Homo sapiens: one gene and its partners. The protein of the gene in region 4 interacts with the protein of the main gene of each other region in a biochemical or structural test. Each region holds a gene or a part of one and is shown on either strand. Other genes may lie near its edges.

Region 1 (7,035 bases), on a different chromosome or scaffold from region 4:
GGTTATCCTGGCCTCAGTGACCTCAGAAGCAGCAAGGGTCTGACTTACAGTGGGCACGTGCTACTTCTTTAATTAATTGAAAGTAAAGTTGTTGTTTTTTAAGTTGGCATTCTGGCTTGAAAACAGAAAGATGGCATGAAAATATTAATGGGAGTACTTCAACTATTTTCATTATGCCAAAAATACTTGGAGAAGTAGCACATTTTCTGCAAAGTCTAAAATGTCAATTTTCTTTGGGGCCAAAAATGCATCATTTCTGTGTGGTAATACTTATGTGGATAAAAAACTCTGGTAGACAGTTATGCATATATATATTTTTTGGTGAATTACAATGAGAAAAAGTCCAGGTGCAATGGCTCACATCTGTAACTCCAGCACTTTAGGAGGCGGATCCAGGAGGATGGCTTTAGCCCAGGAGTTCAAGACCAGCATGGGCAACATAGTGAGACACCTCTGCCTCCCCCACCCCACCCCGCCTCTACAAAAAAATTTAAAAATTAGCTGGGTGTGGTGGTGTGCACCTGTAGTCCCAGCTACTTGGGAGGTTGACGCAGGAGGACTGCTTGAGCCTGGGAGGCAGAGGTTGCAGTGAGCCAAGACAGCACCATTGGACTCCAGCCTGGGTGACAGAGACCCTCGAAAAAAAAAAAGAAAAAGAAAAGAAAAGAAAAAATTAGGCTGGGCACGGTGGCTCATGCCTGTAACCCCAGCACTTTGGGAGACCGAGGTGGGTGGATCACTTGAGATCAGGAGTTCGAGACCAGCCTGTCCAATATGGTGAAACCCCGTCCCTACCAAAAATACAAAAATTAGCCGGGCATGGTATCGGGCACCTGTAATCCCAGCTACTCGGGAGGCTGAGGCAGGAGAATCACTTGAACCCAGGAGGTGGAGGTTGCAGTGAGCCGAGATTGTGCCACTTCACTCCAGCCTGGGCGACAGAGTGAGACTTTGTTTCAAAAATAATAATAATAAATAAATAATAAATAAATAAATCATATGAGAAGATACTCAATGGCACTCAGAAAAGAAATGCAAATTTATTTTATTTTATTTTGAGATGGAGTCTTGCTCTGTCGCCCAGGCTGGAGTGCAGTGGTACAATCTCGGCTCACTGCAACCCCCACTTCCTGGGTTCAAGCAATACTCCTGCCTCAGCCTCCTGAGTAGCTGGGATTACAGGCACCTGCCACCATGCCTGGCTCATTTTTGTATTTTTAGTAGAGATAGGGTTTCACCATGTTGGCCAGGCTGGTCTCGAACTCCTGAGCTCAAGTGATTCACCCACCTCGGCCACCCAAAGTGCTGGGATTACCAGCATCAGTCACCGTGTTTGGCCAGTATTCATTATCTTGTTGTCTTCCAGTTGTGTCTCTTCAATAAGGGAGTATGCAATGGAGTCTATAGAAAGCAAGTGAGGGAGTTTTCTCAGTAGGTGCAAGGGTAGTGAGGCATTTCATTTTGAGTCATACTCTGATGAGGCTGGCCTGTCTTTTCTCATAGTGATCTGCAGAGATGAAAAAACGCAGATGATATACCAGCAACATCAGTCATGGCTGCGCCCTGTGCTCAGAAGCAACCGGGTGGAATATTGCTGGTGCAACAGTGGCAGGGCACAGTGCCACTCAGTGCCTGTCAAAAGTATGTACTGAGGCTGGGAGGTGGTGCATGCCTGTGATCCCAGCACTTTAGGAGGCCAAGGTGGGAGGGTCGCTGGAGCCCGGGAGTTCAAGACCAATCTGGGCAAACATAGCAAGTCCCCTGTCTCTACAAAAAATAAAAAAATTAGCCAGACCTGGTATGTAGTCCCAACTACTTGGGAGGTTGAGGCAGAAGGATCACTTGAGCCCAGGAGTTGGAGGCTGCAGTAATCTACGATTGTGCCACTGCATTTCAACCTCAGTGACAGGGCAAGCCCTCACCTCTAAAACAAAACAAAACAACACAAACAAAAACAAAAACACAGAAAAGCCCAGTACAAATCGACTTCAAACTGAGACTTCGAGTTCAGGGGTCCAGTCATGAACCCTGTCTTTCATGGTCCCCGGAAAGTTCAAATCTTCAAAAGGAGCCTCCAGGCCTGTTCGGCCTTAGGCGGAGGTGAAGGTACAAGCAGAAAAGGGAGCAAGACCAAGTGACCTTGGGCAAATGCCCGCTTGCCTCAGTTTCCTCATCTATAAAGAGGTGGGAATAACAGTACACACTTCATGGTTTGCTGTGAGGATTAAATTAGCTAATTTTTGTAGACTGTACAACAGCGCCTGGCACATAGAGCACATTCTTAATATTTTAACTCACATCATCCTTGGAGCTGCTTTGAAAATACAGGGGACCCTTGAACAACACTTGTCTGACCTGCAGGGTCCACTTATGTATGGATTTTTTTCAACCAAAGGCAGGATGAAAACAGTATTTGTAGGATGCAGAACTGGTATACGCGTGTTCCACGCTGCAGGACTTGAGTGTGTGTGGATTGTGGTAGACAGGGCTCCTGGAACCATGGCCTGAGCACACAGAAGGAGGCTGTCATTAGGGGCTTCCTTTTTTATACTTGACAGGTTGCAGCGAGCCAAGGTGTTTCAACGGGGGCACCTGCCAGCAGGCCCTGTACTTCTCAGATTTCGTGTGCCAGTGCCCCGAAGGATTTGCTGGGAAGTGCTGTGAAATAGGTGAGTAGGTGAGAGCACGTGAAACGAGCTGAAATCCCACCTCTCCAGTCTCCCCCGCCCCCGGAAGGAAAGGCAGGGTGCGATGGCAGGGCCAGGGGTGGGGGCCAGGGACAGGGAAGGCGCTTCTGCCATGGGTCAGGAAGCACAGTGCCACACAGCAAGCAGAGCCTAGGTGTGACCCTGAATCCAGGCTGGCACCCTTGCCACCCAGCCTGTGGCTTCCGAGCCAGCCTGCATCAGGCCTGGGGGAGGACGGGGCAGAGAGGGGAGCCTCCTGAGGGCTGAATGAAAGGGGACTCCCATGTGAGGCATCCATGCCCTGCTCTCTGTCAGATACCAGGGCCACGTGCTACGAGGACCAGGGCATCAGCTACAGGGGCACGTGGAGCACAGCGGAGAGTGGCGCCGAGTGCACCAACTGGAACAGCAGCGCGTTGGCCCAGAAGCCCTACAGCGGGCGGAGGCCAGACGCCATCAGGCTGGGCCTGGGGAACCACAACTACTGCAGGTGAGGGCACATCCCCAAGGAGGGATTCCCCCTGTGAGAAGCTGCTACAGCTGGGGAAAGATTCTGTCAGATCCGTCAGGGTTCTCCCAAGAAACATAACCAATACAGGATGGATAGATGGATAGATGATAGACAGATAATAGATGATAGGTGATAGATGATAGATTGATAGATGATAGATGATAGGTGATAGATTAGATAAATAGATGATACATACATGATAGATAGATGATAAATAGACGGTAGATGGATGACAGATAGACAGATGATAGGTGATAGATAGATGATAGATTGATAGATGATTGATAGATAAATAGATGATAGATACATAGATGATAGATGGTAGATAGATGATAGATGGATAGATGATAGATGATAGGTGGTAGATGATAGACAGATGATTAGAAAGATAGATGATAGATACATAGATGATAGACACATAGATGATAGACAGATTGACAGATGATAGATGATTGATAGATGATTAAATAGATGATACATAGATGATAATGATAAATAGATGATAGATGATAGATGATAGGTGATAGATAGATTGATAGATGATAGAAGATTGATAGATGATAGATACATAGGTGATAGTAGATGTAAGATGATAGATGATAGATAGATAGATGATAGACAGATTGATAGATGATAGAGAGATAGAGATAGAGAAAGAGGAGAGAGAAATAGAGAGAGAGAGAGAATGTGTGTGAACCCAAAGTATCTGAGACAGGTCTCAATCGATTTAGAAAGTTGATTTTGCCAAGGTTAAGGACACCCCCGTGACACAGCCTCAGGAGGTCCTGAGGACATGTGCCCAAGGTTGTCAGGGCACAGCTTGCCTTTAGACGTTTTAGGGAGTCATGAGACATCAATCAACATGTGTGAGATGTACATCGGTTTGGTCGGGAAAGTTGGGATAACTCGAAGCAAGGGCTTCCAGGCCATAGGTAGATAAGAGACAAAAGGCTGTATTCTGAGTCCTTGATCAGCTTTTCACTGAACACACAATTGAGTCTGGCTCAGTTCATCTGCATTTTTACATAAAAAATAGGGCAGAGGAAGCAATCAGATACGCATTTGTCTCAGATGAGCAGAGGGATGATTTTCTGTCCTGCACCTGGGAAGATAAGCTATCCATTTACAATGCCAAGGTGAAAGTCAACAGAACTGTTTTAGGGTAAAGATCTTTAGGCCTGCAAGGAATGTCCTTGTAGAGAATTAAAAAAAAAAAAAAAAAACTTTGCAGCTATCTTATTGAGGAATAAATGAGAGGCAGGTTTGCCTGACGTAGTTCCCGGCTTGACATTTCCCTTGGCTCATGACGTTGGGGTCCTGAGATTTATTTTCCTTTCACACTAGATAGATAGACATTTATGTTAAGGAACTGGCTGACAGGATCGTGGGGGCTGGCAAGTCCGAAACATCTTGGTAAGCCAGGCTGGAAGTGCAGGCAGAAGCTGAGGCTGCTCTCTTAAGGCAGAATTTCTTATTCAGGAAACCTCATATTTGCTCTTAAGGCCTTTAAGTGATTGGACGAGGCCCAACTACATTATCTAGGACAATTTCCTTTTCTAAAGTCAACTGGCTGTAGATATTAACCACATCTATAAAACACTTTCACAACTCCTAGATGAATGTTTGGTTAACTGACTGGGTGCCACAGCCTGGCCAAGTTGACATATAAGACTATTCCAGTCCACACCTTGTCAATTTGGCACCCATGTGCATCTCCTTAAACCATCCTTCACCTCCAAGTAAACACAGGAACAAAATCATACTCCTGCCTAACATGATAGAACTACCAGTGTACAACCAAAAACGCACTCCCGGCTGGGCGTGGTGGCTCACGCCTGTAATCCCAGCACTTTGGGAAGCCAAGGCAGGTGGATCACCTGAGGTCAGGAGTTCAAGACCAGCCTGGCCAACATGGTGAAACCCTGTCTCTACTAAAAATACAAAAATTAGCCAGGCATGGTGGCAGGCACCTGTAATCCCAGCTACTCGGGAAGCTGAGGCTGAAGAATTGCCCAAATCCAGGAAACGGAGGTTGCAGTGAGAGGAGATGCGCCGCTGCACTCCAGCCTGGGATAAACAGCGAGACTCTGTCAAAAAAAAAAGCACCCCCCATTCCTCCAGAAAAGGATACCAAAGTCCTTGGGTCCTAAAGGAGAGGCTTCACCTTTGACCTACCCTGGCCCTTCCCTTGGCTGATTTTTCAGAAACCCAGATCGAGACTCAAAGCCCTGGTGCTACGTCTTTAAGGCGGGGAAGTACAGCTCAGAGTTCTGCAGCACCCCTGCCTGCTCTGAGGGTAAGTGGCAGCCACCCCGCCTTTCCCTGAATGTCCCTGGGGGAGGAAAGTCCAGGAGGACAGGCCGATAGCCCTCCTGCACCTGAGGGGAGAAAGGGGGAGGCCAGGAGTGAGTCATTTTGGTTGCAGAGGGAAGAAAGACAGGACTTAGGTCTGTGCCTGGGCTTGGCCTCTGACTGGCTATTTGTCTGACCTGGAGCTGATCTCCTCACACTCTGACCCTCAATTTCCTCCTCTATGGAGGAGAGGATGGGGCTGAATCAGTGGTTTTCAGTCCTTTTGAGAATGAATGGAGATTCTCCCTTTTTTGATTAATGGGTGAATGGGGCTTTGTCTCTCTTTCGCTCCCTCTCAAACTTTTTAATGCAAAAAAAAAAAAAAAAAAACTTCCAAGATTGAAAAAATATATATTAAGTTACAAGACCAGGCACAGTGGCTTATGCCTATAAACCCAGCACTCTGGGAGGCTGAGGCGGGCGGCTCACCTGAGGTCAGGAGTTTGAGACCAGCCTGGCCAACATGGTGAAACCCTGTCTCTACTAAAAATACAAAAATTAGCCGGATACGGTGGCAGGCACCTGTAATCCCAGCTACTCAGGAGGCTGAGGCAGGAGAATTGCTTGAACCTGGGAGATGGAGGTTGCAGTGAGCCGAGATCATGCCACTGCACTCCAGCCTGGGTGATAGAACAAAAAACTGTTTCAAAAAAAAGAAAAAAATGAAATGCTAAGTTACAGAAAGGTACTATGAATTCAGTGGTGCTTATACAAATCATTACGTTACTTATCACATTTATCACAGCACTATGAAAGATTTTTTTTAAGTTCTAAATATATATAGGGCCAGGTGCAGTGGCTCGTGTCTATAATCCCAGCACTTTGGGAGGCTGAGGCGGGAGAACTGCTTGAGCCCAGGAGTTTGAGACCAGCCTGGGCAACAAAGTGAGACTCCATCTCTACAAAAAATACAAAAATTAGTCAGGTGTGGTGGCTTGTGCCTATGGTCCCAGCTGCTTGGGAGGCTCAGGTGGGAGGATCGCTTGAGCCCAGGAGGTTGAGGCCACAGTGAGCAATGATTGTGCCACTGCACTCCAGCCTGGGTGACAGTGAGATCCTGCCTCAAAATAAATACATAAATATGTGTGTGGGTGTGTGTATATATATATGTAATACACATATATTAAATTTATATATGATATATATAAACACGCACCAGCTATATGCATTCAGCACCCAGGTCCACGGGTGATGCCTGTGACTCTGAAGACTTTACAGTCACTCTACAATATCCTCCCCATCCCCCATGGTCTGGTCTAAATGAGGACTCGCAGATCTAGATAATCTTGAAAATCCCTTCCATTTATGGTATTTATGTATAGAGGTATGCTTTGTCAGTTTCAGGTCGGGAGAAAAAAATGGAAAAATGGGGGAAATAAATGAAAACAGGCAGCACTCCACGGCTCATACCCTCCTCCTTCCCAAGCCCATCATCAGATCCTCAGGACACTGGCAGACACAGTCCGAGAAATAACCCCCACCCCA
Region 2 (3,898 bases), on a different chromosome or scaffold from region 4:
CACGCTTGCTCACCACAACGACATTGGTGAGGGGGAACCCCGCGACTACTGTGGCCATAATGGCTTGGGGAGAGTGGGACCCAGGGAGAGACTGGAGCTGAGGTTGAAGCTGCCCGGTGGGGCAGGGGTGGGGCGAGGGACCTTGAAGCCTCGATATACATGACAAAGGGAGTGGCAGGGAAGAGTTCCATGAAGTCTGAGGGGCCTGGTGCTCCTCTGGAGAGACCCTGAATTTCCCCAACAAGTAGCCTCTTGCGAGTGGAAACAGCCCTGTGGGTATATGGCTTGGGCTGGGAAGGCCCTGTTTATATGAATTAGAAAAAGACACACCTTCCTTTGTGGGATGCAGCCTCTGTCTGTGCTAGGATATAGAACTTGGAGAATGGAGCCTTGGGATGGATTCCAGCCTAACTACCTCAGCTGGGAGTTTTTGCAGAAACGACCTGTACAGCTGTATGCAGTGGCTCTGGCCATCCAAGCCTTTTTCAACACCTGGAACAAAGCCCTTGGGGCATGGGGCAGGGGAGGTTTCCAGGTGATAAGCGACCAGCAGACCTCCCTGGATGACTGACCTAGGGATAGGCATAGCTACTTCCTCGGCACTTGGAGGGGACAGATGGGGACCGCCTAACCAGTAGTGATCTTTCTCCTCTGACCCTCTGTCCTCCCCCAGCCTTGCTGAAGATCCGTTCCAAGGAGGGCAGGTGTGCGCAGCCATCCCGGACTATACAGACCATCTGCCTGCCCTCGATGTATAACGATCCCCAGTTTGGCACAAGCTGTGAGATCACTGGCTTTGGAAAAGAGAATTCTAGTAAGTGACAATTGCGACTGACTTAGAAGGTCCTGAGGAGTGTTTTGACCTGAAAATGAGCCCAGCGTGATCAAGGGAAGACTGCAGAGTTAGAGGTGGGAGCACTGAGGCGGTGGCAGATGGGTCCAGGGATGGATGAAGAGTGTTGTTTAGGGAGCGATGGGCTGCAAAGGTAAATAGATGGTAGGGGCTATAGGTGGAGTAAAGGCTCAGATTTGCATGGAAGAGAATAAGGGCCTTCCCTGGTAGAGATACTTTATGGTTCCCCTCTCTGGCAGACTCCCAGTGGACAGATAAATCTTGATGCAAACGCCTCCCTGTTTTCTCCACCTAGCCGACTATCTCTATCCGGAGCAGCTGAAAATGACTGTTGTGAAGCTGATTTCCCACCGGGAGTGTCAGCAGCCCCACTACTACGGCTCTGAAGTCACCACCAAAATGCTGTGTGCTGCTGACCCACAGTGGAAAACAGATTCCTGCCAGGTGAGTGTTCCAAGCATCTCTCTCCACCTCTTCCATATCTCCCCAGAGCTCCTGGGCTTGTTCCAGCCAGCTTAAGGGTGTCTCTCTCTAGCCAAAGCCCTAAGTAGCCAGAATCAGGAGCTCAGGTCTTTGAGGGTTTAAACCAGTCCTTATGTGTTTGCCAGACATTACCAAAAAAATCCCAGCTCTGCGCTAGTCACTTCAGACTGGGGGCACGAGATCCTAGAAAGAGGAAACAGTAAAAGACAATGTAACTCAGTGCCCAGGGTGTGTTGTGAACTATAAATGATCAGGTGTTCAGGAGAGGGAGGTGAGTGCCAACCTGAGGGTCAGGGAGGGGAGGCTTTAAAGGAAATGTGACTTGATAGGCATTTGAAGAGGCAGAGGGAAGAAAGGAAGGTGTTTCAGTTGAAAGATACAAAACTGAGAAGGAGGCTGGCATATTCCGGGTGGGGAGGAGAACTAGGGTCTGGGAGTGTGGATGGAATAGTGGCAGATGACAGGGCTTTTAAAGCCAAGCAGGGGATTTTAAACTTGATGTGGTAGAAAATGGGGCTGCGTCAGGCACAGTGGCTCATGCCTGTAATCCCAGCACTTTGGGAGGCCGAGGTGGATGGATCACTTGAGGCCAGGAGTTTGAGACCGGCCTGGCCAACATGGTGAAACCCTGTGTCTACTAAAAATGCAAAAAAAAATTAGCCAGGTGTGGTGGTGCCTGCCTGTAATCCCAGCTAATCAGGAGGCTGAGACATGGGAATCGCTTGAGCACAGGAGGCAAGTTTGCAGTGAGCTGAGATCACGTCATTGCACGCCAGCCTGGGCGACAGAGCGAGATTCTGTCCTCCCCCCGAAAAAAAGAAAGAAAATGGGAAGTCGCTAAGGACTTTGACTGGGAAACTCTTCCCTCTCTCTGGTATGGTTGGGTGATGGGATCAGAAATCCCCTCCTCACTTCTCTAGGGCTCATCTTTTGTATCTTTGGCGTCACAGGGAGACTCAGGGGGACCCCTCGTCTGTTCCCTCCAAGGCCGCATGACTTTGACTGGAATTGTGAGCTGGGGCCGTGGATGTGCCCTGAAGGACAAGCCAGGCGTCTACACGAGAGTCTCACACTTCTTACCCTGGATCCGCAGTCACACCAAGGAAGAGAATGGCCTGGCCCTCTGAGGGTCCCCAGGGAGGAAACGGGCACCACCCGCTTTCTTGCTGGTTGTCATTTTTGCAGTAGAGTCATCTCCATCAGCTGTAAGAAGAGACTGGGAAGATAGGCTCTGCACAGATGGATTTGCCTGTGCCACCCACCAGGGCGAACGACAATAGCTTTACCCTCAGGCATAGGCCTGGGTGCTGGCTGCCCAGACCCCTCTGGCCAGGATGGAGGGGTGGTCCTGACTCAACATGTTACTGACCAGCAACTTGTCTTTTTCTGGACTGAAGCCTGCAGGAGTTAAAAAGGGCAGGGCATCTCCTGTGCATGGGTGAAGGGAGAGCCAGCTCCCCCGACGGTGGGCATTTGTGAGGCCCATGGTTGAGAAATGAATAATTTCCCAATTAGGAAGTGTAACAGCTGAGGTCTCTTGAGGGAGCTTAGCCAATGTGGGAGCAGCGGTTTGGGGAGCAGAGACACTAACGACTTCAGGGCAGGGCTCTGATATTCCATGAATGTATCAGGAAATATATATGTGTGTGTATGTTTGCACACTTGTGTGTGGGCTGTGAGTGTAAGTGTGAGTAAGAGCTGGTGTCTGATTGTTAAGTCTAAATATTTCCTTAAACTGTGTGGACTGTGATGCCACACAGAGTGGTCTTTCTGGAGAGGTTATAGGTCACTCCTGGGGCCTCTTGGGTCCCCCACGTGACAGTGCCTGGGAATGTATTATTCTGCAGCATGACCTGTGACCAGCACTGTCTCAGTTTCACTTTCACATAGATGTCCCTTTCTTGGCCAGTTATCCCTTCCTTTTAGCCTAGTTCATCCAATCCTCACTGGGTGGGGTGAGGACCACTCCTGTACACTGAATATTTATATTTCACTATTTTTATTTATATTTTTGTAATTTTAAATAAAAGTGATCAATAAAATGTGATTTTTCTGATGACAAATCTCCCTGGTGCTTGTATGGGAAGGAGTTGGAGTACATAAAAAGGAGAAAATAACAAAGGTGGACTGCACCCTAGAGTTTCTTATGGGACTGCATCTCTGGACTTAATGGAGCTTTGGGAGGTAGAGGTTAGGAGAGCTGTAGGGCAGGGCCACCACAGCACTTAATGTATACAAAGTTTCCCCAAACCACAATCCCATGGCTGTGTAAGTAGTGTACAGGCTTAGTGTCAGCTCCCAATTGCCTCCTTAACCTGATGCCTTTGTGCAGTGCACATCTTGTACAGCTGTACATGGTGGTCTTCTTTAGGGTTAACTCCACAACAGTCTCTTCACTCTGCCCCCAACAATCCTTGAGCTGACCTCAACCAAGAAGAACACCTGTGGCCAGGTGTAGTGGCTCATGCCTGTAATCCTAACATTTTGAGAGGCTGAGGTGGGAGAATCGCTTGAGCCCAGGAGTTTGAGACCAGCCTGGGAAACTTAGTGAGACCCTGTCTC
Region 3 (7,035 bases), on a different chromosome or scaffold from region 4:
GGAGCCGGGAGCCAGCGGAGGGAGGTGGGTGGGTGCTGGGGGCCTCAGGCCTGCCTGTGCCCGCAGCATGCCCGGGGCAGTTCACGTGCCGCACGGGGCGGTGTATCCGGAAGGAGCTGCGCTGTGATGGCTGGGCCGACTGCACCGACCACAGCGATGAGCTCAACTGCAGTGAGTCAGGCTGGGAGCCCCGGTCTCCCCACCCTCCTTCCCCACCCTGCCCGCGTCCCATGGCCCTGCTGGCTGACTGCCGAGGCAGAAAGGCCGGAGGTGGTGGGAGTTTTTGCTCTCGGCCCTGTGTAGAGACCTCTGGCCCCACTCCCCACCCTGCCATATGGAGATCTTGGCCTGTGGGGCAGGTGGTGGGGTATCTCGGAAGTGCTGAGGTCAGCTTGGTAGCTGGTGGAGCAGGGCCCCTTGGGCCTCTCTGTAGATCAGAAAGCGGTCCCCAGGTAGCTCTGATCGCCTGGGCATCCTGGGGAAGCAGTGAGTGATGAGGGCCTCACGGCCGACCTCCCCTTACCCCACTCCAGGTTGCGACGCCGGCCACCAGTTCACGTGCAAGAACAAGTTCTGCAAGCCCCTCTTCTGGGTCTGCGACAGTGTGAACGACTGCGGAGACAACAGCGACGAGCAGGGGTGCAGTGAGTGCTGGGGAGGGGCTGCCTGGGCGGGCAGGTGGGCGGGGCGACTGACGGTGGCTCCTGGTGGCTGAGTCCTGGTGCCTCTCCAGGTTGTCCGGCCCAGACCTTCAGGTGTTCCAATGGGAAGTGCCTCTCGAAAAGCCAGCAGTGCAATGGGAAGGACGACTGTGGGGACGGGTCCGACGAGGCCTCCTGCCCCAAGGGTGAGGCCCGCCCCACCCATCTTCCTGTTGGGGGCCTCGCCCCTGGAGGAGGCTGCCCTGAGCACACGCACATGCAGGACGCCCCGAGTTTAATGAACACAAACCACCTGTGTGTTAAGTGTGATGAGAAAGGGCTCTGGTTGGGGGAGAATTTTCCAGAAGGTGGAGAACCTGTAGCAGGGCAGGGAGGCCAGTGGGCGTGGGTGGGGCAGGCCTGGGTGAGGGGGTAATGTGCAGGGGCCATGAGGCGCCATTGGTGGTTTCTGGCTTCTGGTCGGATGCTGCAGAGGAATTGAGCCCCTCCCTTGTCCTCCTCCTTGAACAGTGAACGTCGTCACTTGTACCAAACACACCTACCGCTGCCTCAATGGGCTCTGCTTGAGCAAGGGCAACCCTGAGTGTGACGGGAAGGAGGACTGTAGCGACGGCTCAGATGAGAAGGACTGCGGTGAGCAGGGCATCCGAGTACGGTTGTGCAGGTTGTTCACTGTGTGAAGTGCCCACCAGAGGGTGCACCTGGAGGTGCAATCCCGCCAGCACCTCACTTAGCAGCTCTGTGCTTGGGTGAGAGGGTGTGTCTCCTGGAGGAAAGGATAGCCTTGCCAGTTGGCATGAAGGCACCACCCCACGGGCTGGCTCTGGTCTTGGAGAAAGGCCCGTACGGCCAGCATCTCAGCGCCTCTGTAGCATGGCGGGGTCGTGGCTGCAGTGCGTTGCTGGCCCCTGCTGTGTAGACACAGCTGTGGAGCAGTAGCCTGGAGAAGAGCGGCCCAGCTCACCCAAGCCCAAGGCAGGGTGTCACCCCTGCCTGCCCATACTTTAATCTGCAGCCTCTGTGTTTCAGAAGCGTTGGCTGGCCACAGGTTAGATTTGAGCACAGCTCCAGCGTTCTGTGACCTCACATCAGCGGTTCATTCGTCCCTCTCAGAGCTGTGGCCTTCAGCATTCAAAGGCGCTTCTCCCTGCTCCATGCTGCCCCCTCCCCTGTGATGTCCCAAATGATGTCAAGTCAGGCAGATGACACCCAAATCAAAGTGAAGCTGACCAGCCAGCCTCCGGAGGCCCTCGCTGCATTTGTGAGGGAGGGGGAGGTGGGAAGATGAGGGTTTGAATTTGGGAGCGGGGAGAAGGAGGGGCATGGTGGAAGGGAGTCTGTGAAGCTCAAAGATAGTTTTGGGGGTCCCTCACGCCCTGGCCACGCCAGCAGTGCTGTGCACGCCAAAAGCTGGCTTCCCCACACAGGGTCTCCTGGCACACACTGCATGTCCCCTTGTGGTTTGATGTCCCCACCTTGACTTGCTGTCCTCTGGTTCTCTGCTCCCTCTGCAGACTGTGGGCTGCGGTCATTCACGAGACAGGCTCGTGTTGTTGGGGGCACGGATGCGGATGAGGGCGAGTGGCCCTGGCAGGTAAGCCTGCATGCTCTGGGCCAGGGCCACATCTGCGGTGCTTCCCTCATCTCTCCCAACTGGCTGGTCTCTGCCGCACACTGCTACATCGATGACAGAGGATTCAGGTGGGTCTCTGGGTGGGCAGCAGGGAGCCTCCTTGCTGGCCCTTTGCATCTGGGAGTAATGCCAGGATAGGTTGGCACCGAGGCAGGGCACTGGAGGGGTGGCCACATGTGTTAGTCCATTCTTGAGTTGCTCTAAAGAAATACCTGAGACTGGGTCATTTATAAAGAAAAGAGTTTATTTGGCCCATGGTTCTGCAGGCTGTATAGGAAGCGTGGTGCCAGCCTCTGCTTCTGGTGAGGGCCTCAGGGAGCTTCCATCCATGGCAGAAGGTGAAGGGGGAGAAGGCACATCACATGGCGAGAACAGGAGCAAGAGAGAGCAGGAGGAGGTCCTAGACTCTTAAGCAGCCAGCCTCGTGTGAACTCAGAACTCACCCATCACCATGGGAAGGGCACCAAAACATTCATGAGGGAACCGTGACCAAAACACCTCCTACCACGCCCCACCTCCAACACTGGGGATCCCATTTCAACATGAGATTTGGAGGGGACAAGCATCCAAACCAAATGAGCAGATATCCCAGGACGGGGCTCAATAACAGTAATAATAAAAACTCACTGTATTCGGTGCCCACTTGCAGCCAAGTGCTGTCTCTGTGCCTCTCCTAAAACCCCCTAGCAAGTTAGGCAGCTTGATTGTATCCTCACTACAGAAAGTAAGGTTCAGAGAAGTAGGGACGTTTGCTTGGGGTGGCACAGCTGTTAAGTGGCAGAGCCAGACTTGAGCACAGGTGTGGTCTCCGGTGAGTCTGCACTGTGCAACTCCTCGGATTGGCCAACGTGAGCTTTGGATTCATGCTCCAGCTCTGGCTTGCCGGTGGCCCTGGGCAGGTTATTCAAACTTCCTAGGCCTTGGGTTCTTCACCAATGATAGTGACAGTATCAGCTCCCACCCTTAGAGTTGTGAGAATTAAATACAATGCTGTACTTGAGACACTTTGCGCTGTGCCTGGCACATAGTAGGTGCTCAGCATGTCATGGCCTCAGACACACAGACAGATGAGAGGCCTGGAAGGGTCACATGGGCATCCCAGGAACAGGGGCACAATGCCGGGCTGCGCTATTTGTGTCTTAGCTCCTGGCCTCTCTGGGCGTCTGGCTGTTGGCTGAAGGAAGGAGTGTTAGGGCCTGGCTTGCCCTGAAGAGGCAGGCACAGGGGCATGGGCCTTCCAGGAGAATCCAACCTCGGAAGAAGGGGATGCGCTTTCTGCTGGCTGCACGCTTTTCCATGGTAGGCAGCTCCAGGAGCAGGTGACCCAAGCCCTCAGCTGCCCTTTGCAGGGAGGAGAGATGGGCCCACAGCAGGAGGGAGGCCTGAGGCACAGATGGAGTGTGCTCAGACCCATGCACAGGGCTTGGGTGATGGAGATGGACAGCAAGAGCCTGTGGGGAGTGGACCCAGTTCCATGGTCCCCAGCTTCGCTGGGTGCTTGACACGTGGCTTTGTCCAGCCTGAGGCTGTCCCTTGTCTCACTGTGTCACCCAGGCTGAAGTTCAGTGGTGCAAATCATAGCTTGCTACAGTCTTGAACTCCTGGGCTTGAGCAATCCTCCTGCTTCAGCCTCCTGAGTAGCTGGGACTACAGGCACATGCCACCATGCCCAGCTAGTTTAAAATTTTTGTAGAGACAGAGCCTTGCTAAGTTGCTAAGCTTGGCCTCCACCTCCTAGGCTGAAGTGATCCTCCCATCTTGGCCTCCCAAAGTGCTGGCATTACAGATGTGAGCCACCATGCCTGGCCCAACCACTTCTCTTTGAGGTTGGCTTTTGTGCCTCTTTGATATGCCCCATTCTTTCCTTTTTTGAGCCATGTCCTTGCTTTCTGGCACTACCAGGTACAATAGGCTCATCTTATGTTTCCCCAGCCCAGCCCTAGGACCAGCCATTTCTCCAAGGAGTCCTTTACTGGGAATGGTATTTAGAGACCAAGGTCCGGTTGCTTAGTGTGTTCATTGTCACCATGGTGTCATGTCCAGGCCCAGTTAGCAGGTAGAGCTAGGAAATGGCTGGGTGCATACTAAGAACTGCCCTGCCATCCTGCACTGCTTCCTCTTTTCCTTTGCTTCGTTGCTTTCTTTCTCATTTCCTTCTCCTTCATCGTGTGTTGATCATCAGTCATGCTTCTGCCAACGAGTAGTGCAATTAATCTTCAACACCCCTGGTTACTATTGACACTAGAGAGACCAACATGAATAGGACTTGGTCCCTGCAGATTGTGGGTCACAGACTTGTAAGGGTAGGGACAAGACATGACACACATGTGCAGTAAGTGCTGTGGCAGGGCTGTGTCCAGGCTCCCTTGGGCCCAGCATGTGGAGTTTAGAATTCTAAACCCATATGCCTGAGGGACTCGGGGGGTGACTGTTGGGAACACTCAACATGGGTGTCTGAACTGAGGGTTGAAGGTGAGGGTGTCTGTCAGCTGGACCAGGTGGCTCAGACCTTCCAGACAAAGGGAGTGTCGTGTGCAGAGGCAGGGAGGTGTGAGATGTGCAGGGGCATGGTGTCAAGGGACCCTGAGCACATGGCTAAGTCATCATGCATTCATTGGGCACTGCCGGGAGGCGGCATCACGTTGCGGTTAAATGCACAGGCTGCCTAGGTTGCAGTTGTGGTCTACAGCGTGTTAGCTATATGATCTTCGGCAAGTTGCCCTCTCTGTGCTTGAGTCCTCATCTTAAAAAGCGCGACCCTACCTCACAGGACTGTTTCAGGGATAAAACAACTTACTGTGTCAGCATCGAGAATTGTGCTTGGGACATCAGAAGTTCTACCTGAGCACTAGCGATTCCCAACTGCACTCCAGCCCCTGGGGTCACCATGGGGGATATCAGTGGCTGCATCTTCACAATCAGTCTCTCAGCTGCTGGTAGACGTGCATGCCTTAAACGTTAGAGGCTGAGTCTGCTGATAGAATCAAATACTGTCAGACTTACCGATTGGCTGGGTTTGCAGACAGGGCTTCATGAAAGCGGGGTCTTGAGCTGAGGTCGCCAGGTGAACAGGGCGGGCTTGGAGGAGGGAGGTGGAAACCCGCAGGCACAGGGCAAAGAGCTGGATGGGGGTGTCCATGCTGAGTGTTGGGGTCACGGGGAATTGAGCTAGAGGGACAAGGATGGCTCTCCCCTCTCCCCCGTCCCATGAGACCCTTTCAGCTACATGCTCGCCTCCTGGGTGTTCCTGAAACATCTCTACTCTCTTCTATCTGCACTGCCACCACCTTGCTCGTCCTAGCTCACTGTAGCCTGGGCAGCTGCAGCACCCTCCCCATCTACTTCCTTCCCTCTCAGGACTCTGGTCTGCACCACTCGAGCCCAGAGGGGCCTTCCCCAAATCTGATCACCCCAATCTCTTGCTTCAGCGCCTGCCACGGCTTGCAGTATAAAGCAGGAACTCCTTCACGACCGACACGGCCACGTTATCTGGCCCCTGCCCGTCCGTGCAGTCTCAGTCTCCAGTGCAGTCCTCATGCCTTCCCCATGCTCAGTGTGAGGGTTTCCTAAATGTGCCTTTGCTCTTTTTTCTTTTTTTTTGAGACCGAGTTTCACTTTTGTTGCCCAGGCTGGAGTGCAATGGCGCGATCTCAGCTCACTGCAACCTCCGCCTCCCGGGTTCAAGCAATTCTCCTGCCTCACCCTCCCGAGTAGCTGGAATTACAGGCATGCGCCACCGTGCCCGGCTAATTTTTTGTACTTTTAGTAGAAACGGGGTTTCACCATGTTAGCCAGGCTGGTCTTGAACTCCTGACCACGGGTGATCTGCCTGCCTTGGCCTCCCAAAGTGCTGGGATTATAAGGTGTGAGCCACCACGCCCGGCCACCTTTGTTCTCTTTAAACATGCGGCATTCTCCACCCCTTCAGGCCATAGGTGGCCAGGCCTACGTGATGTCGAGGCTTGGTTCATAACTCACTTCGTTTCCGGACTCCCAGCCCATCCTCTCCCACAGCTTTCTACCCAGTCCTCTGTGGGACCCTTCTTGTCACGCTGTAATTGGTGGTTTTCATATCTCTCCACATGTACACTGTGAACCTGAAGGCTGGGTCATAGATCGCATCACAGATGCCCAGAGATTGTTGAGTGAATGAGTTGATGGGGGTTGAGTACGTGGCTGGATGTGAGCAGGCTGGGAAACTGTTAGAAAGGTCAGGTCGATTAACAGTGAACGCAGAAGGCCTGGGTGGGTCACAAGACCTCACCTGGCAACTCTTGGGAATTCTTTTAGGCTGTGGAATGGGACGCAAAGGATCTCACAAAAACAGCTTTTGGGAAGTCATTTTCTGGTGGCAACAGATTACAGTGAAGCGAGATTGGGCATAGCCTAGGTTGGAAAACTGAGCTTTGGCCTTGGCGTGCGATTCCGTGGGGAGGTGGCTGTAAGAAAGGCCAGAAGGGGGCCTGGCGCGGTGGCTCATGCCTATAATCCCAGCACTTTGGGAAGCCGAAGCAGGCAGATCACCTGAGGTCAGGAGTTCGAGACCAGCCTGACCAACATGGTGAAACCCCATTTCTACTAAAAATACAAAAATTAGCTGAGCATGGTGGCATGCACCTGCACTCCCAGCTACTTGGGGGCGGCTGAGGTGGGAGGATCGCTTGAGTCTGGGAGGCGGAGGTTGTGGTGAGCCAAGATCATGCCACTACACTCCAGCCTAGGCAACAGAGTAAGACTCCA
Region 4 (7,035 bases):
CTAATCTGTGGGTAGAGGATTAGGCTATGTTTGGGGGTTGGTCTATGTTAAGGATGGCAGCAGGAAGTAACTAGAAGTAGAGGAACTACTTGTAGTTTTTAGCCCAAGGAGAAGTGGCACTGGCCAGCACTAGGGGGCAATATAGAGCTATTTTCTTGCACATGCTCAGGTTGATTTTTATACGTAAATGTTTCAAGATTTGAGGGTAACAGGTGGGTGCTGAAGAAGATTCCCCTGGAATGTAACCAGATTTGTTAGAGCTACTACCATTACCGTTACTACTACTACTTCTACTTCTTCTTCTTTTTGTCTTTCAAATTTTCCATTATGTGGGTAATCTTTTGCCCACATACTGAATTATGATTGAATTTTGATTGCCCTGTTGCTGTCTCAATTTTGACAGTTGTACAGTCCTGTAAATACGAACCCTCCTTGAGGATACCACGTAGAAGATCCCATTGGCCCAGTTTGTGCATTGCATCGTTTTGTGACAGGTCTTCTCTAACTCTGAAATGTCCAAATTGATATATTATGACTGTAGCAGCTCATTCTTGTCTCCAAGGACCCCTCCTCATGATACTCTCTTTTCTTGAGTATTCTAAAGTCCCTAATGGTGATTACTCAATCAGGTACCTCGGGCTGCTCAGTTTTAATATTAACTTGGTATTTCAAGAGGAGGTAGAATTGGAAATTGATTGCTGTAGCCAATGCTGCATACATGGATTTAGACTGGATCATGTGGACATGGTTCAGAATTAGCTTTGAAGGGTTAGTGTCATTTACACTATTGTTAGGTATCTGGTTTTTGACCTACCATTGGATTGCAATTCTTGCCACTTTTACTGTACAAAGTTTTATCCTCTAATATTATAAGTTGACTTCATATACTATACTTAATTTTTAACCTTACTTCTGACCCTGTCTCACTTATGAAAACAAGAGTCTTCAGATTTAACTTGAGGAAAGAGATTAAAAGATAACATTGACTTGCTTGGAGGGTGTCTGGCCTGTATACTTGTTGTATGACCATGGTGAAAAATACTCATATTTTGTGCACACTGGTTTTAGATGAGAATGCCTATTGTGGAATGATTAAGTTCTGGGACGGTGCTTCTGAGTTGTAGCAGAAAGAATCATACACCCAGGAACAAAACAAAACCTACTTTGTCTGTTGCATACAGCACAAAGAGATGTCAATGACAAAGTTGTTGGTGGAGGAATGCCTCTTCTACCTGTGTTGTTGGTGAGTGATTTTTAGTTTACTCATAGATTAAGAGCATGCGTATCATTTTTTTCTCATTTTCTTTAGCCATTCTGAATTTTGATTTGGAATATGCCGCTCTTCGCTACGGTTGGTCTTATTAACATCAGTTATTGTATGTGTTCTTTTTCTCAAGGGCTTTTGTGGCATGTGGGGCAATTTACTTTGGTCTGCTGGTCGTGCCCTTTTGCCGGTATCTTGTGTTTATGGATTTTCCATCTCTTTTTATCAGTGCCAGCTTTCTCTTCCTACTGTCAATGCTCCTGTATCTAACAAAATTTAAATTAAAAATGGAAAATTAAAAAAGGTGCCCAGTCCCCTCGCCATCATTTTTAGGTGGCAGCTTCAAATCTCTGTTTTATCAAAAACAGATAACCACAATATTTAGAACAGTGTCCAAGAGTAAATAGGCTCTAACTGCAGACTAAAGGGACTTTCCTGTAAGTTTCCCTGTAAGTTTTATTGCGTGACCTTTTTGACATTTATTTTTGTTGTTTAAAGGCTTTTTTACAAAAAAAAAAAAAAAGAAAAAACTTCCTCCTGGTTCTCTGCTGTTTGAAATAGTTGAGGAAGTTGAACAAGTACAGTGCCATTATGTAATGATGAATTTTGTCTTTTCACAGTAGGTGATTAAAAAGCTCTATTATGTGGTAATTTTTCTTCCATATCAATTTTAATCATAGATATTGGATGGATGATATACTTTGCTTTTACCACTGAAAGGTGTTTAGAAAGTACAGAGGTTTGTAGGAAGCCTCAGGGACTAATATATCGTTTGTTAAATAGTTGTAAATAGAGGATGGGATTGGACATTAAACTTCCCTCAGTGCTGCCATCTCTTCTACGACCTCTAGTTCTGTCTCAGGCACGGAAGCCTTAGCTTTGTCTACTTGTATTTCACCCTTCCTGAAACTTATTTCTTAAATATCTTCTGTATATTAGCTTCCACTTCATGTTTTTTTCAAGCTTTAGACTGATAAGGTTCTAAGTTTTATCTATAAACTTTTGCACCCTTTGTGGAAACAAAATTCTAATGATAAAGTGATATGTTGAATAAGTAATAACAAATTAAGACATTCATAAATTTCATAGTAAAAAAAAAAAGTTTCCAAGACTGATGATATTTTCCCCGTAGGTTTCTGTTTGTATCAACCAAAATGGTAGAAGTCATAAAGTCCCTTCATTTACTTACTCTGATTTTCATGTTTCTAATTTGGAAGCATTATACGTAATCAGAATATATAACTCTGTGTAACTCTATGTAATCTCTATATAACTCATTTATTAAGCAATCTCTGTTGCTTCTTGATCTTTTGGGTAAGATCAGTTGTAAACAATCTGTATGTTGTATTATTTTTCACCACCACTGCCTCCAACTATGATTTTATTTTTCAAATCTCCCATTTTTTAAATCTCCTAAGGAGACATCTAATATTTGATAATCATTTAGTATGCACCAGTGTTAGTTCCATACTGATTACCAAAATGTTGAAATGTTGAAATATTTCCAATGAGTTGGGAAGAGACTAGTGCAACTCCTCTAAGACAAATGGACCAACACGTGATGAAGCAGAAATTCCAATGCCTGGTACTGCTTAAGGCCTCTGAGATACTTCTGCAACCCTGCTGGCCTCTGTCCTGATCGATCAGTGTTCCTGCCGTACTGATTGTTAAGCATTTTGACACTTTTAGCTGTGGACAATTTTAGTTCATATTGGGGTTAAAATTTCTATCTTTTTTCCTCTCTGCTTGGCAGCTCAGGCCTGACCCATGACTTGAAGGACCTGGAGTAAGAAGGGGTATGGCTTCTTTCAAGCTCCCTTCCTGCAGCTCTTTTGGCTTTAGCTCCTCAAGGGTTATGGCTGGGGGAGTGATGAGATGGTGGACATGGCACACTCAGCATACAATTGCAACTTCCAGTCATTTGCCCCTGCCTCTCTGGCTAACACTAACCAGCTGCTCTTGCATGGATAACACCTTCCCTTCATCTAGATTAAATGATTCACTTCCTCAGAGAGGTCTTTTTTCTGACCACTAAGTCTAAATTAACCACCCCTCACTGTCTTGTCAAGGTTAATTAATTAATTATGTAGTACTTAATACTCCTTGATATTCTTGTTTATTAATTAATTAATTTATTATCTACCAACATCCCTCACCCCCACCATAAAATCTAAGTTGTTGAGAGCGTGGACCTTGTTTGAATCGCTTCCTGTAGGAACTCCAGCACCTGAGACAGGTATGGCAGAGTGTGCCCGATGAGTATCTGTTGAAAGGTTCTGGAGGTAGTTAGTATCTTATTAAAGAAAGACTATGCTGTTAACTCTAACAACAGGCCATCTTTTAAGATATCTTTTTGGTCTTGGAGCTTGCACACTACTTGACTTCTTAAATAGGAAGATAGCTTGTTCATGTATTGGTAGTGATGGTTGTGCCAATCAGAGTACCACGTTTTACTCTTGATAAAGATTATGTTACCAAGTGAGCAGGTACCAGGCAAATGGATAGGTTTCCTAGAACTGGTTACTCTTTTAAGTGTCATTGCTGTGCATAGCCTTACATTTTCTGAAGATGGGGACTGTCATGTGATGCAGACCAAGGACTCTTGAAAATGTTGCATAGATGACAAGCCTCCAAAATCTGTGTACTTTCTATATTTTACCTGTGGCTCAAGGATAACTTGCACAGGCTAGAACTCAGCAACATGTGTGGTATGAGGAATGTTAGAGTTGGAAAGACCCCAGGAACTTATCCTCACTGATGTGCAGATTGAGGCCTAGAGAGCAGAAGTTGACTTGACTTTGTCAAGGCCACTAGACAGCCACTATTAAACTGCTAATGTGGTGATACATTTTTCCTTATGTGAGAACCAATTAGGAAAATGGAATCCTGGTTTCAAAATTCACATACTTTTTATAAAAGCATTTCTTTATTATGTTAGTGGATTGCATGGTTTTCAGATTGGGAGATGAGGTAAGAATCTGTTGCTTCGGAAATATTTACGGGAACAGTAAGGGAAACAATCTCATAATAATCACATTAGTCAAATGGAATGGTATATATATATCACTATATATATACTGTATATATATGTACTATATATACAGTATATATAGTATCACTATATATATACTGTTATATATATATCACTATATATATATATAGTGATAACTTCTGTTTCTGTAGGCATCTGACAAATTGGCAAATAACTGGAAATACTACCTTTATAATGGTTACCATTATGTTAGAACTGTACTTTAAGCAAGTATATAGATGAAGGATGTTTATTTTAATATTTTGGCTTATTCAGTGATGGTGATGAATAATATGGCTGACATTGGCATGCTTGGTTCCACAAGGAAACTTTCTGGTAATAATTTTAACATTTCATTTAACAGTACATCTCAATGATAAAAGTACCATAAAAATGAATAAATAAGCATGTTTAGTGAACGCTAGAAAGTATAACCTATTATTTTTGAAATATATTCAGTGAGTGACCTTAACTTTTATTTACACTATATTCTATGGGATATTCTATTCAGAAGTTCAAGTTTTTTTTTTTTTTTTTGGTCAAGACCGTCAGAAAATAAATTCATAGCTATAAACTTGAATGGCTTGCCTAAAATATTATTAATTTACCTTTTTAAACTTTGGTTTGCAAAGTTCCCAAATCTGAAAACAAAGGGAGCTAAAAATTATAAAGGGGAACTATAATAACTACGTTTATAATTAAAGCCAAGTTGTTATAAGTGATACTTTTGGTAGCATTCGCTAATTTTGCCTTTTACCTCATGGGAATGCATTTTAAATTTAGTTTTGTTAATTTTATTTGTCATCAGATTTCTCGTTAGAATTCATGTGCCACCTTCAAGCCACTTTTTATCATCCCCTAGTGACTGAGTAGGCTCCTCCCTGGACGGTTATTTGCCCTGTTTCCACACCAGACTATCTTTGCCAGGCTGGCTTCACTAAATTTGCTCTCTTGCTATTCCACTTAATTCCTCTTTTATTTTCAGACTGTGATTTTTTTTTTGTACTTAGCTTTTTCCCTTTTGTATTTGTTTTGTTTTGTTTTATTTTTGAGACATGGTTTCACTGTCACCCAGGCTGGAGTGCAGTGGTATGATCACAGCTCACTGCAGCCTTAACTTCCCCAGGCTCAGGTGATGTTCCCTTTTCAGCCTTCCAAGTAGCTGGGATTACAGGTGTGTGCCACCACTCCCTGCTAATATTTGTATTTATTTTTAGAGATGGGGGTCTTACTATGTTGCCCAGGCTGGTCTTGAACTCCTAGGCTCAAGTGATCCTTCCACCTCGGCCTCCCAATGTGCTGGGATTACAGAGGTGAGCCACTGTGCCCAGCCGGCTTTTTTTCTTTAGACTAGTAGTTGGGTTGTTTCTTAGTCCACTGAGGTATGTATTGGGTTGTTGCTGGGGTTTGTGGGGCAGAGGCAAAGTAGAGGTCTGATTCCTTAAAGGAAATCAACATTCTCAAACAGAACAAGGCATTTTAATGGTAAGTGCAAGGATGTGGATTTACATTTCTACTATATACACTATGTGCTGATAAACCAGCATGATCTGCCAGGAAGGACCTGGGAGCAGCAGGATTTAGATGCATTTTAGAGGGTAGTTGGATGGGTCTAAAGGGCTCTGAGTAAGCTTCTAGTTTTGCATTGCTTAATAATGACTCTCCAGGAGTGACTCTTAGGTGCCACATGTGTCCTCAATGTTTGCAGATAGTATGCAGTGTATAAACTCTCCGTGAGGTATTAGGAAAAACACCAGGGCTTCACTGGCTAAGTAGCTTAGCTAAGGTCCCACAGCTGGTAGATGTTTGGACCTTGGTCTGACTCCAAGCCAGGACTCAGAGCCACGTGCCTCTTCCTTCATAAGTTAAATGGTCTAATGTTTTATTAGAACATTGTTTTCATTCAGCAAATATGTATGAGCATCTGCTCTTTGCTAAGCTTTGCCCTAGGTGCCGCATATGCAGAGAAGAAGATGCAGACCTGCCTTTGAGAAACTCGGTCAGAGGATGGCAGATCCTTCCTTTTACTTCATGGTCTATTAGTTTTGTGCTCAAAGTGCTATGGGAACACAGTGCTTTATTTCACTTCAAAAATCCTCTATTGATTTACTAAGTGGTTGGTTTTGTCTGGAAGGGAAGTTGAAGGAGAAAAGTTCCCACAGAGGAGGTGATGTGTTTTGAAGCGGGTCTGAGAGGGAGAAAAAGAGGGAAGGATCCTAGGCTGAGGGAACAGCCTGAAGAAAAGAATAGAGGCATGAAGAGGCATATATCATGGGCGAGAGACAAGAAGCATCGAGAATGTTGAGAGTGAGGAGAGGCTAGAAAAAGTGGAAAGATGTCCTAGACCTATGCATTCAAAGGCCCTGATGCTGTGTGTACTTCCTGCAGGGTTGACAGTTAACAAACAGAACAAAAAGAAAAGTCTTCATGTCTAAGATTCCATCAAAACCCTTTCTATTCAGTTCCTTTCTCAGCAGGCAGGCAGTGACAGATTTCTGCTTTGGTGTGTGCAGATAACTACTTGTTGCTGGAATGTTTTTCAGTCATCAGGCATGTTTGGAAGTTGTGAACAGGTTAGAAGGGCAGGCTGCGCAGCCTCAGTTCCACTCTCCTGAGCTGAGCCTGTGTCCACACTACTCTATATTGCCTTCTTTATGTAAACAAAGAGCTATTTTCACACTTCATTCACAAAACGGATGGCGTGCAGAATGAGGCTGGGTGAAGGATCCGCAATTGGGAT

Evidence for each region.
Region 1: of the proteins of PDGFC (region 4) and PLAT, one has a biochemical effect on the other in vitro, tested with the Homo sapiens proteins (one study listed by BioGRID).
Region 2: of the proteins of PDGFC (region 4) and PLAU, one has a biochemical effect on the other in vitro, tested with the Homo sapiens proteins (one study listed by BioGRID).
Region 3: of the proteins of PDGFC (region 4) and ST14, one has a biochemical effect on the other in vitro, tested with the Homo sapiens proteins (one study listed by BioGRID).

What each region holds. Positions count from the first base shown.
Region 1 is NC_000008.11:42,183,540-42,190,574, reverse strand, and holds part of PLAT (tissue-type plasminogen activator isoform 1 preproprotein), read left to right. Parts: intron 1-1,503; coding exon 1,504-1,641; intron 1,642-2,558; coding exon 2,559-2,669; intron 2,670-3,002; coding exon 3,003-3,177; intron 3,178-5,402; coding exon 5,403-5,494; intron 5,495-7,035. UniProt on the Homo sapiens protein: Converts the abundant, but inactive, zymogen plasminogen to plasmin by hydrolyzing a single Arg-Val bond in plasminogen.
Region 2 is NC_000010.11:73,914,103-73,918,000, forward strand, and holds the end of PLAU (urokinase-type plasminogen activator isoform 1 preproprotein), read left to right. Parts: coding exon 1-26; intron 27-673; coding exon 674-814; intron 815-1,148; coding exon 1,149-1,297; intron 1,298-1,468; exon of another isoform or gene 1,469-1,519; intron 1,520-2,286; coding exon 2,287-2,463; 3' UTR 2,464-3,392; downstream 3,393-3,898. UniProt on the Homo sapiens protein: Specifically cleaves the zymogen plasminogen to form the active enzyme plasmin.
Region 3 is NC_000011.10:130,197,775-130,204,809, forward strand, and holds part of ST14 (suppressor of tumorigenicity 14 protein), read left to right. Parts: intron 1-66; coding exon 67-171; intron 172-533; coding exon 534-644; intron 645-733; coding exon 734-847; intron 848-1,172; coding exon 1,173-1,295; intron 1,296-2,176; coding exon 2,177-2,363; intron 2,364-7,035. UniProt on the Homo sapiens protein: Exhibits trypsin-like activity as defined by cleavage of synthetic substrates with Arg or Lys as the P1 site. Involved in the terminal differentiation of keratinocytes through prostasin (PRSS8) activation and filaggrin (FLG) processing.
Region 4 is NC_000004.12:156,961,779-156,968,813, reverse strand, and holds part of PDGFC (platelet-derived growth factor C precursor), read left to right. Parts: intron 1-1,068; exon of another isoform or gene 1,069-1,219; coding exon of another isoform or gene 1,220-1,243; intron 1,244-7,035. UniProt on the Homo sapiens protein: Growth factor that plays an essential role in the regulation of embryonic development, cell proliferation, cell migration, survival and chemotaxis. Potent mitogen and chemoattractant for cells of mesenchymal origin.